Linked DNA regions of Homo sapiens: all the other regions are linked to region 2. Evidence: fine-mapped expression QTL. A gene starts in region 2. Each other region holds a variant in brackets. All regions are shown on one strand. Distances are between the middles of the regions.

Region 1 (4,230 bases), 40 kb before region 2:
GAAGACCTCTGACCAGCTAGAAGAGCCTGAGATTTTGAGGGGGAGGAGATAATTTGCCAGACGGGTACTTGCGGAGAGGGTCCAAGTGTTTGGGCTCCAGCCTGGGGTGAAGTCAGAGACATAAATCACACCTTCCAACTGCCTGTTTCCGCTTTGAGCTCAGTTCCCAGCCAAAAGCCCAGCTAGCCTGCCAGAGGAGTAAGCGTGTGGATGGGGGAGGGGCCAAAGAGCTGGAAGCTGGTGATTGGGAATGGGCGTCATCAGCTGGGAATCTGGTCTCATCAGGGTCATGAAATGGACTCAATGCCAGGGCTGGTAGAGCAGGGAGCCCAAGGATCTCAACAGAACTGCTCTGTAGATACCTCATCCCACGTGAGACACACCCACAACCACACCCTGTTTGCTGAATTCTCCTCTCCCACACATAAAAACCACTGGGACGTGCCTGGAGGCACAGACACCTACATAGACACACCCCCCACCCCCATCCAGCTGTTGCTCACTTGTGCCAGAAAACTCTACGTCTCCTGGATGAGTAGACCTAGGAGAAATGAGTGCGGGTTGAGAGATAAGGAGGATCCTGGATCTTCATTAAGATCTGGAAACACTTTTCTCTAGTAATCTTAAAGCCCTGTTCTGTGTCATCTTTTTGCCTTTCCCCACTGGGGATGGGTCTGGGTGATTTCCCTTCTCACTTTAGGAGAACCTCAGTGGTCTGTTGTCCTCTTGGTGGGCAGTGCCTGCTAATCACAGTGATGGCAGAGCAGGAGGCAAGAGATTGAGTGTGCATGTTGGGCGGGGTAGGTGTTTGAGGGCAGGAAATCCAGAAAGCCACTCAGACAATGGCCTTTTCCGCACGCTTGGGTCCAGGCTGCAGGCTGCTGGATCCTGTCTGACCCTAACAGCAGCTCCTATTTTTCCCTCTGGTTAGCTTCCCACTCAATGCTCATTTCGGGGCATATAGGAGAGGCAGGATTCCTTTGGAGGAAAGGTATCCTGTTCATCAGCCCTTTTCCAGGTGACTGTTCGGGTTGACCACAAGGATTTGGGGGCTTAAGTAACCTTATCAAGCCTGGGACCACCCCACCCATGCCTAGTGTCCTCTTAAATGTAGCATTTGTTATGGCCTCCTACATGGTACAGCTGTAAGCACTTTGACATCTTAAGGGAATCATGATGCTCTTATTTTGGGCTAAGTTTGCCCCATTTTGTTCTCTGAATTGTCTGTTTGTATCCTATTAGACTGGAAACTTGAATGAAGCAAAGATTGTGTCTGTCAATTGGTACAGCCCCGGACTAGCATTAGGAAAATAATATGTCTTTTGATATTCAAGGTGACAAAATGATTACAATGAAGATAGAAGATCTTGGGAATGCTGGAATATATTTTTTCCTAGAAAAGTGGGGGTAGGTCACAGCTACCATGGCCACTTAAATGGGGGTAAAATGACCCTGAGGTCTCCAATCTCTCCCTTCTCCTGTACCTGGGAGAACCAGAAAGCTTCTTTCTAATACACCTTCTGCTTTAGTCATTTGGGTCTCAGTGTCTCAGTATTGTCTCACTAATGTGCCCATTTTGTCTTCAGCTTTGCTCCTGTGATTCCAGTGTCTGGAATGCACTGTCCTCTGTACTGGTCATCAAGGCCCATCCAAGCCCTGCATAAGCTTCCCCATCTCATTCTTTATTTTATTTTATTTTATTTATTCATTTTTTTTTTGAGACAGAGTCTCGCTCTGCTGCCCAGGCCCGAGTGCAGTGGCGCCATCTCGGCTCACTGCAAGCTCCGCTTCCCGGGTTCACGCCATTCTCCTGCCTCAGCCTCCCGAGTAGCTGGGATTACAGGCGCCCACCACCACGCCCGGCTAATTTTTTTGTATTTTTAATAGAGACGGGGTTTCACCGTGTTAGCCAGGCTGGTCTCGATCTCCTGACCTCATGATCCGCCTGCCTCGGCCTCCCAAAGTACTGGGATCACAGGTGTGAGCTACTGCGCCTGGCCTCTTTATTTTATTTTAAAATATTTATTTATTCATTTATTTATTTATTTGAGATGAAGTCTTGCTCTGTTACCCAGGCTGGAGTGCAGTGGCGTGATCTCGGCTCACTGCAACCTCTGCCTCCTAGGTTAAAGTGAATCTCTTGCCTCAGCCCCCTGAATAGCTGGGATTACAGGTGCCAACCACCATGCCTGGCTAATTTTTATATTTTTAGTAGAGACGGGGTTTTACCATGTTGGCCAGGCTGGTCTTGAACTCCTGACCTCAAGTGATCTGCCTGCCTCGGC[T/C]GCCGAAAGTGCTGGGATTACAGGTGTGAGCCACTGAGCCTGGACTTCCCCAGCTCATTCTAAATCTCAGCAATGTGCCACTATTCTGAAGTCCTAGGCTTATAGTCTGGAGTACATGGTCTAGCACTTAATTATCCAGTGTATTAATAAAGTCCTTGTATAATTTAGAAATTGAATACATTTGAATGCACCTATGATAGAAGCAACTCTAAATATTTTATGAAAGCATGTTCCATAGAATTTTTTTTTTTTTTTTTTAGACTGAGTCTCGCTCTGTTGTCCAGGCTGGAGTGCAATGACACGATCTTGGCTCACTGCAATGTCCGCCACCTGGGTTCAATGATTCTCCTGCCTCAGCCTCTTGAGTAGCTGGGATTATAGGCACGCGCCACCACCCCCAGCTAATTTTTGTATTTTTAGTAGAGACGGGGTTTCACCATGTTGGTCAGGCTGGTCTCGAACTCCTGACCTTGTGATCTGCCTGGCTCAGCCTCGCAAAGTGCTGGGATTACAGGCGTGAGCCACTGCGCCTGGCCAGAATTTTTAATGATAATGTTTGCTTTTTGTTAATGTGCTTTTATTTTATACAGGGAAGTCATCTGAAAAGACTTGAGTTTGAAAGTTGCCTCCCTTACTTAACAGATATGTAACCTTGGCAAGTTACTTAACCTCCTTGGGTCTCAATATCTTCACCTGTAAAATGGCAGTAATATCTTTCTCATAGATTTGTTGGGATAATTAAACTAATATACTATATGTATGGTTACAGTACTTGGTTATAAATATTAAAGCCTCATTCTGTCTGTTGATAAATCTGAAATCTATTTAAACTCTGATGTGCTCTCTGTAATGTTGTTTTTTGTTTTGTTTTTTTGAGATGGAGTCTCACTCTGTCGCCCAGGCTGGAGTGCAGTGGCGTGATCTTGGCTCACTGCAACCTCTGCCTCCTGGGTTTCAAGTGTTTCTCGTGCCTTAGCCTCCCGGGTAGCTGGGATTGAATGGAATGTATTTTATAGATCAAGTCTCAGCACAAACACTGATTCCTCCAAGAAGCATTCATTAATTCCCCACCCAGTACTCCTGATTTCACTAGTCACAGCATCTACCCCACTATATTGTATTTTCCTGTTTGTCTCTCCTTTTAGACTAAGTTCTGTGAGGTAAGGATCTTGTTTACTTCTGTTTTTCCACTGCCAAGTACGTTGCCTGGCTAAACAAATATTTGAATAAACTGAACCTGTTTTTAAAGCAATGGTAAACATAACACAGCAACATTACAAAACTAATTTCTGAATTGTGTGACATTGTTTTTTACAACGTAGTCTTCTAGCAAGATAGCGTTTCTTACTATCATGTTTTTAATTTGCATCTAATTATTGAATTGGATCCAGAGATGTGGTCCAATTACTTGTTAACTTTTGTCACCTGACCTGTCCCCACAAATTATATTTTATAAGTGTGGCAGAGACCACTCATTCTCATCATCCTGTCTCTTCTTCCTTTTAATAATATGACTCTGCTACCCTGCTATCCACACACTAAATCTTAGCAGGGTGCATGGCTGCCAGCTAGATACTACACTGTCCAGTCTGTCTTGCAATTACAGGTGGTCCCATAACTACGTTCTGGTCAATGGAATGTGAGTGAAGCAATGTGTGTAACTTCTGGGTCATGTCTTTAAAGAGGAAAAGTAGTTGCTCTCTCACTCTTTCATCCTTCTGCTTGCTATGACATGGTGACACATTAAGCAGCCACCATGGACCCAGAGATGCAAGCCTTTTCTACCAAAGACCATCTGCTCCATATATCTCTGTACTATTACTTTATTTGAAGTAAGAGGGTCACTATATTTGTGGGTTTCTTTGTTATAGCAGCATGGCTAACATCCTTTGAATGAAAATTAAGATAACCATATAATTCATTAAATCCCTTAGCCTACTCTGAA
Region 2 (4,230 bases):
ACAATGGAGTGAGATCCTGTCTTTAAAAAAACAAAAAACCCCTTATACATAAACACAGAAATAATGTTCTATTATAAAGCTTTCCTCCTGGGTTCTTAAAAATACAGATAGGCAGGTTACCAGTCTTGTTCCTCTCTAGGACCTGGAAATGCTGGAAGTCTTTGACAGACAGTATACACTCAACCCTTCCAATATGCTTGGAAACACTAGTTCACCATTTTCATGACTTTTCTTAAACATGATCAGGAAGGGCCACACTAACATTGTCCCTTTTTCTAGTGAGGTTTCACCTCCTCTCATCCCAATCTTCAGTGCTAAAGTGGCAATACTTTAAGCTTCTCCAATTAATACTCATTCCCTCTATGCACTAAGGGAAAACCTCTCAATGTTAGGACTCAAGAACTGTCCATATTATGGATAACAGAGTCACAAGAGAACAAATCTGTAACAGGAATGTGAAACATTAAAAGAGAAATGGTTTCACAGTTTGAATCCTTTTCTATTAGAAATCTCTTCTATTGAGCACTGAGACTAAATACATTTATTATTGTGGGAAAAACCTGAATTTATATAAAACCATCCCCATACGAAACTTCTGAAAATTGTCTGTCTCTAGAGCATGCTCTCCTTTGGCCCCTCACACAATTCTACACTCCTCACCACCCCTCCCCCCATTCTGTGACATAAGCAGCGTTAGAACCTATGATAGGAAATACAAGTGATCAGCTAGAACTCTAGTTTTTTTGCTACTGAGCCCATTTGTTAATGACAATCATTAGTGAATTTGTCTTAAAAATATTTTTCATATTTATGTTTGGATCAAGAAATCCCCACCGTCTTTTTGTATATATTTCACTTATACATAGTTACTTCATACTTTTTCATTAAAAATAAGAGTTTTGGAAGGAAGAACCAAGTATGTTTCTTGATTTTAAGTGATGAGCACCAGATTCAGCAGCTTGTAGGAAGCCAACCTATTCTTCCCGGACAAAAGGACGAATTACAGTACACTAGGGGCACTGGAATTCACAGTACCATCACTTAGCCGTGTCTGTTTTAAGTATCTTCCGCATCAAACTGTTAACGGGATTCTTTACCTTTTCCCTACTACTAGATCACGGTGAAATAGACAAGCTACGCCGGAAGCAATCAAGTTTAGGGTATGGATGTAGTCGGCGGCTACTGGTTAAACGCTTAACAGAATTCCGGCCTTAGTAAAAGAATCATTTTTCTTCCTTTAAACAACAACAACAACAACAAAATCACAGTAGACTTAATCAATGAGACTAAATAAGAGAAAGTGGGGGAGGTGGTTAACTTAAAAAAAACATAGAAAAGGCGCCAAGGAGGCCCTCGAGTGGGCAATGCAGCGAAACAGGTTGGTAGCCAAAATAGCTGCATTGAGAGCCCACAAGGCTGAAGGCTACCAGCAGAAAAGCGAAATGAGGATATTAGAAGGTGAAGGTATCCCGGTACGCAAAATAGGAATTGCTTAGAGGCGCCCCGGGGTGCCTTTCCTTACCTCGGTGGACACACACCTTCCTCACAGTCACCTTCCTCCCACGCAAGCCCCAGCAACGGCCACTTCCGGCGCCTAACGTTGGGAGGTGGGGCGAGGGGCCGGCACTTCCTGTGACTGGGAGTCTCGGTTCTGGCTGAGTGTGGGGCAGGGTGGATCAGCTGTGGAGTTCACCTGTGAGCCCCTAGGGTCAGCTCCCTGATGACCCTTTCCCACGAGGATCTCCTCCTTGGGCACCCCATCTTTGGGGCCATCCTCCCCTGGCCCCCAGAACAACAGTGGCCTTGAGAGGGTAGAACTCGCATTTCTTTCCCTGGGTTTTGTGGCGGCCATCTTAGAAAAGGCAGATGAGCACTTAGAAATGGGCACCTGCGATTACCTCAGGAGTTCAAGACCAGCCTGGCCAACATGGTGAAACCTCGTCTCTACTAAAAATACAAAAATTAGCTGGGTGTGGTGGCGGGCGCCTGTAATCCCAGCTACTTGGGAGGCTGAGGCAGGAGAATTGCTTGAACCCGGGAGGCGGAGGCTGCAGTGAGCCGAGATTGCACCACTGCACTCCAGCCTGGGCGGCAGAGTGAGACTCCGTCTCAGGAAAAAAAAAAAAAAAAAAAAAAAAATGGCGCCTGAGGGAATGGGACTGATGGAACTGGTTAGAGGTGGGGAGCTGCCTAGAAAGAAGCCTTGTTTGTGGAAGTTGTCTAGATAGAAAGGTAATTTAGATTTTGAGGGAAGAGAAGAGGAATTATAAAGGAGATACGCAGTGCAGCCACAAAACAATCACCAAGGACAGGAATTTTGTGTCTGGCTGTTCTTGTTTAGAATGTGTTGTAAAATCCCAAAATTCAAAAGGCACTAACTATCTGAGAATGCTTGGTAGGATGATGGTTGTTGCTGCCTGATGAAAGCGAGTTTTAGAGTTGGGGAGAGAGCTCAATGAAGAGTTGGAGAGGACAAGAAGGCCGGAAGGTTACAACTTGTTAAGGGAAAACCAAACGTAGTGTGAGGCTTTGTTCTGGGGAAAAAAAGTGTAAGCTGCAGTTCTTGTCCCCAGAGTGCTTAGAAAAACGACTCCCAAAGTGGATGAAAGGTTTAATAGCAGTACAAAAAATGCCAAAAAAAGTGGTAGAGACTGTAAATTCCTGTAAGGAAAAAAATTAATGGGGCCTGAAATGACCTGGGAAGGCATTATAGAGAAAAGGGACTTGTAGCCTTTGAAGGTTAGACAAAAAAAGGAAGGTGTTGACACTACAAGTAGATCTGGTGGTAATATTTTTCAAAACCAAGAAGTAAAAGATATGACAAAACATTCTGTGCTGTTCAAGATGTAGGAGGCAGTCTGGGTGATTAGTCTGGGCAGTGAAATATTGGGATTTCTACAGCATTTCAGTGGTGTAGAGCCCAAATAGGACTTGAGAGGACTACCCTGACAAAAACTGAATGTAGCTTTAGTAAAAAGGATCAGTGGGGCATTTTCTTTTTCTTCTTTTTTTTTTTTGAGATGGAGTCTCGCTCTGTCGCCCATGCAGGAGAGCAGTGGCATGATCTCGGCTCACTGCAACCTCCGCCTCCTGGGTTCAAGTGATTCTCCTGCCTCAGCCTCCTGAGAAGCTGGAACTACAGGCAGGCACTACCACACCCAGCTTTTTTTTTTTTTTTTTTAAGTAGAGACGGGGGTTTCACCATGTTGGCCAGGCTGGTCTCAAACTCCTGACCTCAGGTGATCTGCCTGCCTCGGCCTCCCAAAGTGCTGAGATTACAGGTGTGATCCACTGCGCCGGGCAAGGGATGTTTTCGTTTTACATGATTAATTTGTGAGCGTTTATTGTTGTTACTCCCTCCGCACCCCCTCCCCCCGACCTTTTTTTCCTACTAGAAGAGAGTTTGCTCCACAGCCATCAGTTCAGATTAAGACACTAAAAAGAACCAAGTGTTGATGGAAGCCAGGCTCAAGCCATTGTAGGCTAGTGGTTCTTAATCTTGTCTACACCTTAGAATCATCAGGGGAGCTTTTAAGACATACCATGCCAACTTCCCATCCCACACCAATTAATGTGAAAGAGCCAGGCATAGTTATTTTTAAAAATCTACCCAGATGAATTTAATGTGTAGCCAGGGCTGAGAACAACTGACCTAGGCATTGTTTTGAAATCAAAAAAGCCATTCTTTCACCCATGGCCTGGATGATTCATTTGAAGGAGGAGCAAACTGTTAAAGTGGTTTGCGAAAGATAATTGCTAAGAAGGAAAGCTTCATTGCAAGCTTAGCACTAATCATTTTGGAAAAAGTTGTTTTGGCAAATCAGTTTTAGATTGTTAGGAAATATTTTAAAACAATTTTCATGAAATCCTAAACCTCTGATTTTATCACAGTATCATTAATGCAGATTGTTGGGGCCAGTGTGATTTGAAATGAAATATTTTTTCAGGCTTTACATTGCAGTAATCTGGTGAAATTGTTGACAGTGCTACTGTGACCCATAAATACATTTTATTCAGATACCTGCAGATTGAAATTTCTGAGGAAGAAAGAGCTAAGGGCTTGGGAGGATAGGGGAATGGGTACCAAACCAGAATCCAAAGTCAGGCTTCACTGCATTCAGTAGTAATGCCTTGTCAGAATGACAGGATCCTCAACTGATAATGCTGTTTCATTTAGCACCTGTGAATAAGCCAACCAACTTTCAAACAAGCAAAAATCAAACCTGTTTT
Region 3 (4,230 bases), 25 kb before region 2:
GACCACTGGTCCTGCAAATAGGGGATTGGGTGGTGATGATGGTAATAGAGTGGCCAGATTGCAATGGATTAAGGAGTAAGTGGGAATTTAAGACCAGGTATAGACAACTCTTTCAAAAAACTTGGCACCGAAGTCGTAATTGCTTCAGTGGGAGTGTGAAGGATTTTATGTATTTGTTTGGTCAGAATGCACACTCTTCTAGTGTGCAGAAGCTGGAAAGCTAAAGACTAAATTTCCCACATTCTCTTCTAGCTAGCTATCTTAAATCACTTCTGAATTAAGTTCTGCTAATCAGATGCACTAGTGTTTCACTTGGATTCTGAAGCCAGCAGGGGTTAAGACGGGGTGCAGGGCATCCATTTAGGGATGCTGACAGTGGCAGAGGTGGTTACTTCTTGGACTAGCAGCTGCAATGGCAGCTTCCTAACTATTGTAGAAGCTTCTTGAATGTAGTAGAAGCTTCCTAAATATAGTAGAAGCGGTAGCAGCTCCTTTAGCAGTCTTTTTTTTTTTTTTGAGACGGAGTTTCACTCTGTTGTCCAGGCTGGAGTGCAGCTCACTGCAACCTCTACCTCCTGGGTTCAAGCAATTCTCATGTCTCAGCCTCCTGAGTAGCTGGGATTACAGGCACCCACCACCACGCCTGGATAATTTTTGTGTATTTTTCGTAGAGACGGGGCTTCACCGTGTTGGTCAGGCTGGTCTTGAACTCCTGACCTCAGGTGATCCACTTGCCTCGGCCTCCCAAAGTGCTGGGATTACAGGTGTGAGCCACCGTGCCCGGCCTGATTAGCAGTTTCTTTTTTGAGGCAGGATCTCACTCTCTCACCCAGGCTGGAGTGCAGTAGTAAGATCTCGGTTTACTGAAACCTCCGTTTCCTGAGCTCAGGCAATCCTTCCATTTCAGCCTCTTGAGTAGCTGGGACTGCAGGCGCATGCCACCATACCCCAGCTAATTTTTGTATTTTTAGTGGAGACAGGGTTTCACTATGTTGCCCAGGTTGGTCTCCAACTCCTGGGCTCAAGCAATTTGCCCACCTTGGCCTCCCAAAGTGCTGGTATTACAGGTGTGAGCCACCACGACTGGCCTCCCTTAGCAGTCTTTAGGAATCATTTCTGGAAGTCCAGTCTAGAGTTTGTTTCTTCAGCCTTCCCCAGAATTCTGTGATCCATCCATTTGATGCCCTAGTAATAAGTCCTTTACTGCTTAATCTAGCTAGAATCGATTCTGTTCTCTGCAACCAAACCCTGATTAATATGGAGAACAGGGTATATATTTTAAAAAATAAACATAAACATTTTCATAGCTGAAAGAGTTAAGGAAAGAGTAGAGTTAATTTAAAGAGAAGAGGGTTGGGTATGGTGGCTCACACCTGTAATCCCAACACTCTGGGAGGCTGAGATGGGAGGATCACGTGAGGCCAGGAGTTTGAGACCAGCCTGGGCAACATAGTGAGATCCCATCTCTACCAAAAAAAAAAAAGAAAAAAAAAAAAGAAAGAAAGACCAGTCATGGAAGGTGGGAAGATTGCTTGAGCCCAGGAGTTTGAGGTTGCAATGAAGTATGATAGCACCCCTACACTCCAGCCTGGGTGACAGAGTGTGGCCCTATCTCAAAGAAAAAAAAGCTAAAGAGGAGAGAGGAATTGACTTATGGAAGATATTGGAGGATAGGAGAAGCTCAGTGTAGTAGACTGCCTTCAAGACAGCCCCCCATTGATTCTTGCCTCCTGGCATTCATGTTCCTGTAAAGTCCCCTCCCACAATGAAAAGGGCTCACCAGTGTAACCAAAAGCATATTGTGAAATGATGTAGCGTGACTTCTGAAGTTAGGTCATAAAATAATTTACAGCTTCCACCTTGCTCTTAAATTGCCCACCATGGGGGAAGTCAGTTGACATGTTGTAAGGATACTCGCAGGCTTTGTAGAGTCCCGCATGGGGAGCAACTGAGGCCTTGAATTGCCAGGCATGTAAGTGAGCCACTTAAGAAGCAAATCGTCCCACCTCAGTCAAGTCTTCAGAAATGGCAGCCCTGGCTGACTCTTTCTGTTTTTTTTTAGACAGAGTCTCGCTCTGTCGCCCAGGCTGGAGTGCAGTGGTACGATCTCAGCTCACTGCAACCTCCACCTCCTGGGTTCAAGCAATTCTTCTGCCTCAGCCTCCCAAGTGGCTGGGATTACAGGTGCATGCCACTATCCCTGGCCAGTTTTTGTATTTTTAGTAGAGACAGGGTCTCACCATGTTGGCCAGGCTAGTCTCAAACTCCTGACCTCAAGTGATCTGCCCACTTTGGCCTCCCAAAGTGCTGGGATGCGCGATTACAGGTGTGAGCCACTGTGCCCAGCCCTGGCTGACTCTTGACTGCATCTACATGAAAGACCCCAAACCAGGATTACTCAGCTAAGTAACTCCCAAATTCCTTATCCACAGACATTATGAGAGTAATGTTTATTATTGTTTTAATACACTATGTTTTGGGGAAATTGGTTATGTAGCAATAGATAATACAATGTGATGCAGTACAAAGTTCACAGACAAAGTTAGCCTTGTAGAGGAAGTATA[C/CT]TTTTTTTTTTTTTTGAGACAGTCTTGCTCTGTTGCCCAGGCTGCAGTGCAGTGGCACCATCTTGGCTCACTGCAACCTCTGCCTTCCAGGTTCAAGCGATTCTCCTGCCTCAACCTCCCAAATAGCTGGGATTACAGGCATGCACCACCACGCCTAGCTAATTTTTTGTATTTTTAGTAGAGATGGGGGTCTCACTATGTTGGCCAGGCTGGTCTCGAACTCCTGACCTCAAGTGATCCGCCTGCCTTGGCCTCCCAAAGTGCTAGGATTACAGTCGTGAGCAACCGTGCCCAGCCAGAAGTATACTGAGATAAAGGAAAAAGAGGTGCTATAAGAGTTAAAGAGTAAGTTAAGGTCAATGACCAGTACCTTCTCAAGGAAATCAAGACCAGGTGTGGTGGCTCATGCCTGTAATCCCAGTACTTTGGGAGGCTGAGGTTGAGGATCATTTGAGGTCAGGAGTTTGAGACTAGCCTGGGCAATATACTAAGACCACATCTCTAAAAATTCTTTTTAAAAAGTAGCTGAGTATGGTGGCACACACCTGTAGCTCTAGCTACTTGGGAGGATGGCTTGAGCCCAGGAGTTCAAAAAAGTTGGAGGTAAAGTCAATGTCATCTCCTGATAGTGGAGGATGGAAAGTAGGGACTACGAAGTTGAGAATAGTAAAAGGGCTGCAACGGCCACCAGGTAAATCTGAAAGTCAAACAGGAATGAGTGCCCGAGTTTAGAAATCTGTATCTGCAGTGGAGTTAGGTGGCATAGTTATATGATTTTCTGTAACTATGCTTGATAACCTAGCAGGAATAGAGTAAAAGATGGTGGGCTTCTCTCAACTTGGGAATTGGTAAAGCAGAGACAGAACAATAGCGGGGGTTAAGGATGCTGGTTTAGGCTACTGAAGTACTGGATCATGGAGTCTAAACTGGCAGATGTGGAAATGAGTTCAGGAGGAAACTCATAGCCTGAGAGAATGAGAAGTTGAGTGTAGAATCAATATTTAGGGAAGAATCGTATAAAAGCAGTAAATTAGAAATCTGAAGTCCCAGGTTATGGTCATAGCTCACTACTAACAAGCTGTGCAAGGATCAAATTTTCAGGGCCTGTTTTTTTTTCCCTCCTGGGTTAAAATACATAAAATGCTAAGTAAGAACAGTAACTTGCCTATAGTAAGAACTTTGCAACTCTTTTAACAATTATTCTTAAGTGTTTTAAAATTATATAGTATTTAATACACACTTGTGAAGCATAATAAACACCAACAAACTCACCATCCAACTTACCAACAGACTACTACTAATATCCTGTGTTTCTTCCTGGTCCCCTCATCCTGGCCTCTTCCCTAGGGATTACCACTATATTGAACTTTGTGTTTATCGTTCTATTTCCTTTTAAAAAACTGTCATGTTTCACACTTGTATAGGGCCTGTTTCTTCATGTGTAAGATGAAGCTTTGGATCAGGTACTCTCTAAGCTCCCTTTCAGTTTTTTTTTTTTTTTTTTTTTGAGATGGAGTCTGGCTCTGTCGCCCAGGCTGGAGTGCAGTGGTGTGATCTCAGCTCACTGCAAGCTCTGCCTCCCGGGTTCACGCCATTCCCTGCCTCAGCCTCCTGAGTAGCTGGGACTACAGGCACCCACCACCACGCCCGGCTAATTTTTTGTATT

Which allele goes with the higher level. Positions count from the first base shown, and alleles are read on the strand shown. Sizes are in standard deviations (SD) of each study's normalised expression. Not every link is listed here.
In carriers of allele C in region 3, the expression in T cells of the gene that starts at base 1,579 in region 2 tends to be lower than with CT alone (moderate effect, 0.71 SD a copy in GENCORD).

Evidence for each region. PIP is the estimated chance that this variant, and not a neighbour inherited with it, causes the effect. A credible set is the group of variants that fine-mapping cannot tell apart.
Region 1: its variant is the best candidate, but not a certain one, in a credible set for the expression of GTSF1 in left ventricle (GTEx, PIP 0.57).
Region 3: its variant is the best candidate, but not a certain one, in a credible set for the expression of GTSF1 in T cells (GENCORD, PIP 0.56).

The regions. Positions count from the first base shown.
Region 1 is chr12:54,432,198-54,436,427 of GRCh38, forward strand. All of the region lies in intron 3 of GPR84-AS1 (GPR84, ZNF385A, ITGA5 and GTSF1 antisense RNA 1), which reads left to right. Among named protein-coding and RNA genes, the nearest start is that of ITGA5, 15 kb to the left of the region's middle. The variant T/C (reference allele first, on the strand shown) is at 2,286.
Region 2 is chr12:54,472,024-54,476,253 of GRCh38, forward strand. It overlaps GTSF1 (gametocyte specific factor 1), which reads right to left and starts at 1,579. Exons shown (of 9, transcript NM_144594.3): 1 at 1,523-1,579. RefSeq lists enhancers at 1,656-2,182, 1,848-1,907.
Region 3 is chr12:54,446,702-54,450,931 of GRCh38, forward strand. All of the region lies in intron 3 of GPR84-AS1 (GPR84, ZNF385A, ITGA5 and GTSF1 antisense RNA 1), which reads left to right. Among named protein-coding and RNA genes, the nearest start is that of GTSF1, 25 kb to the right of the region's middle. RefSeq lists a silencer at 1,740-1,940. The variant C/CT (reference allele first, on the strand shown) is at 2,565.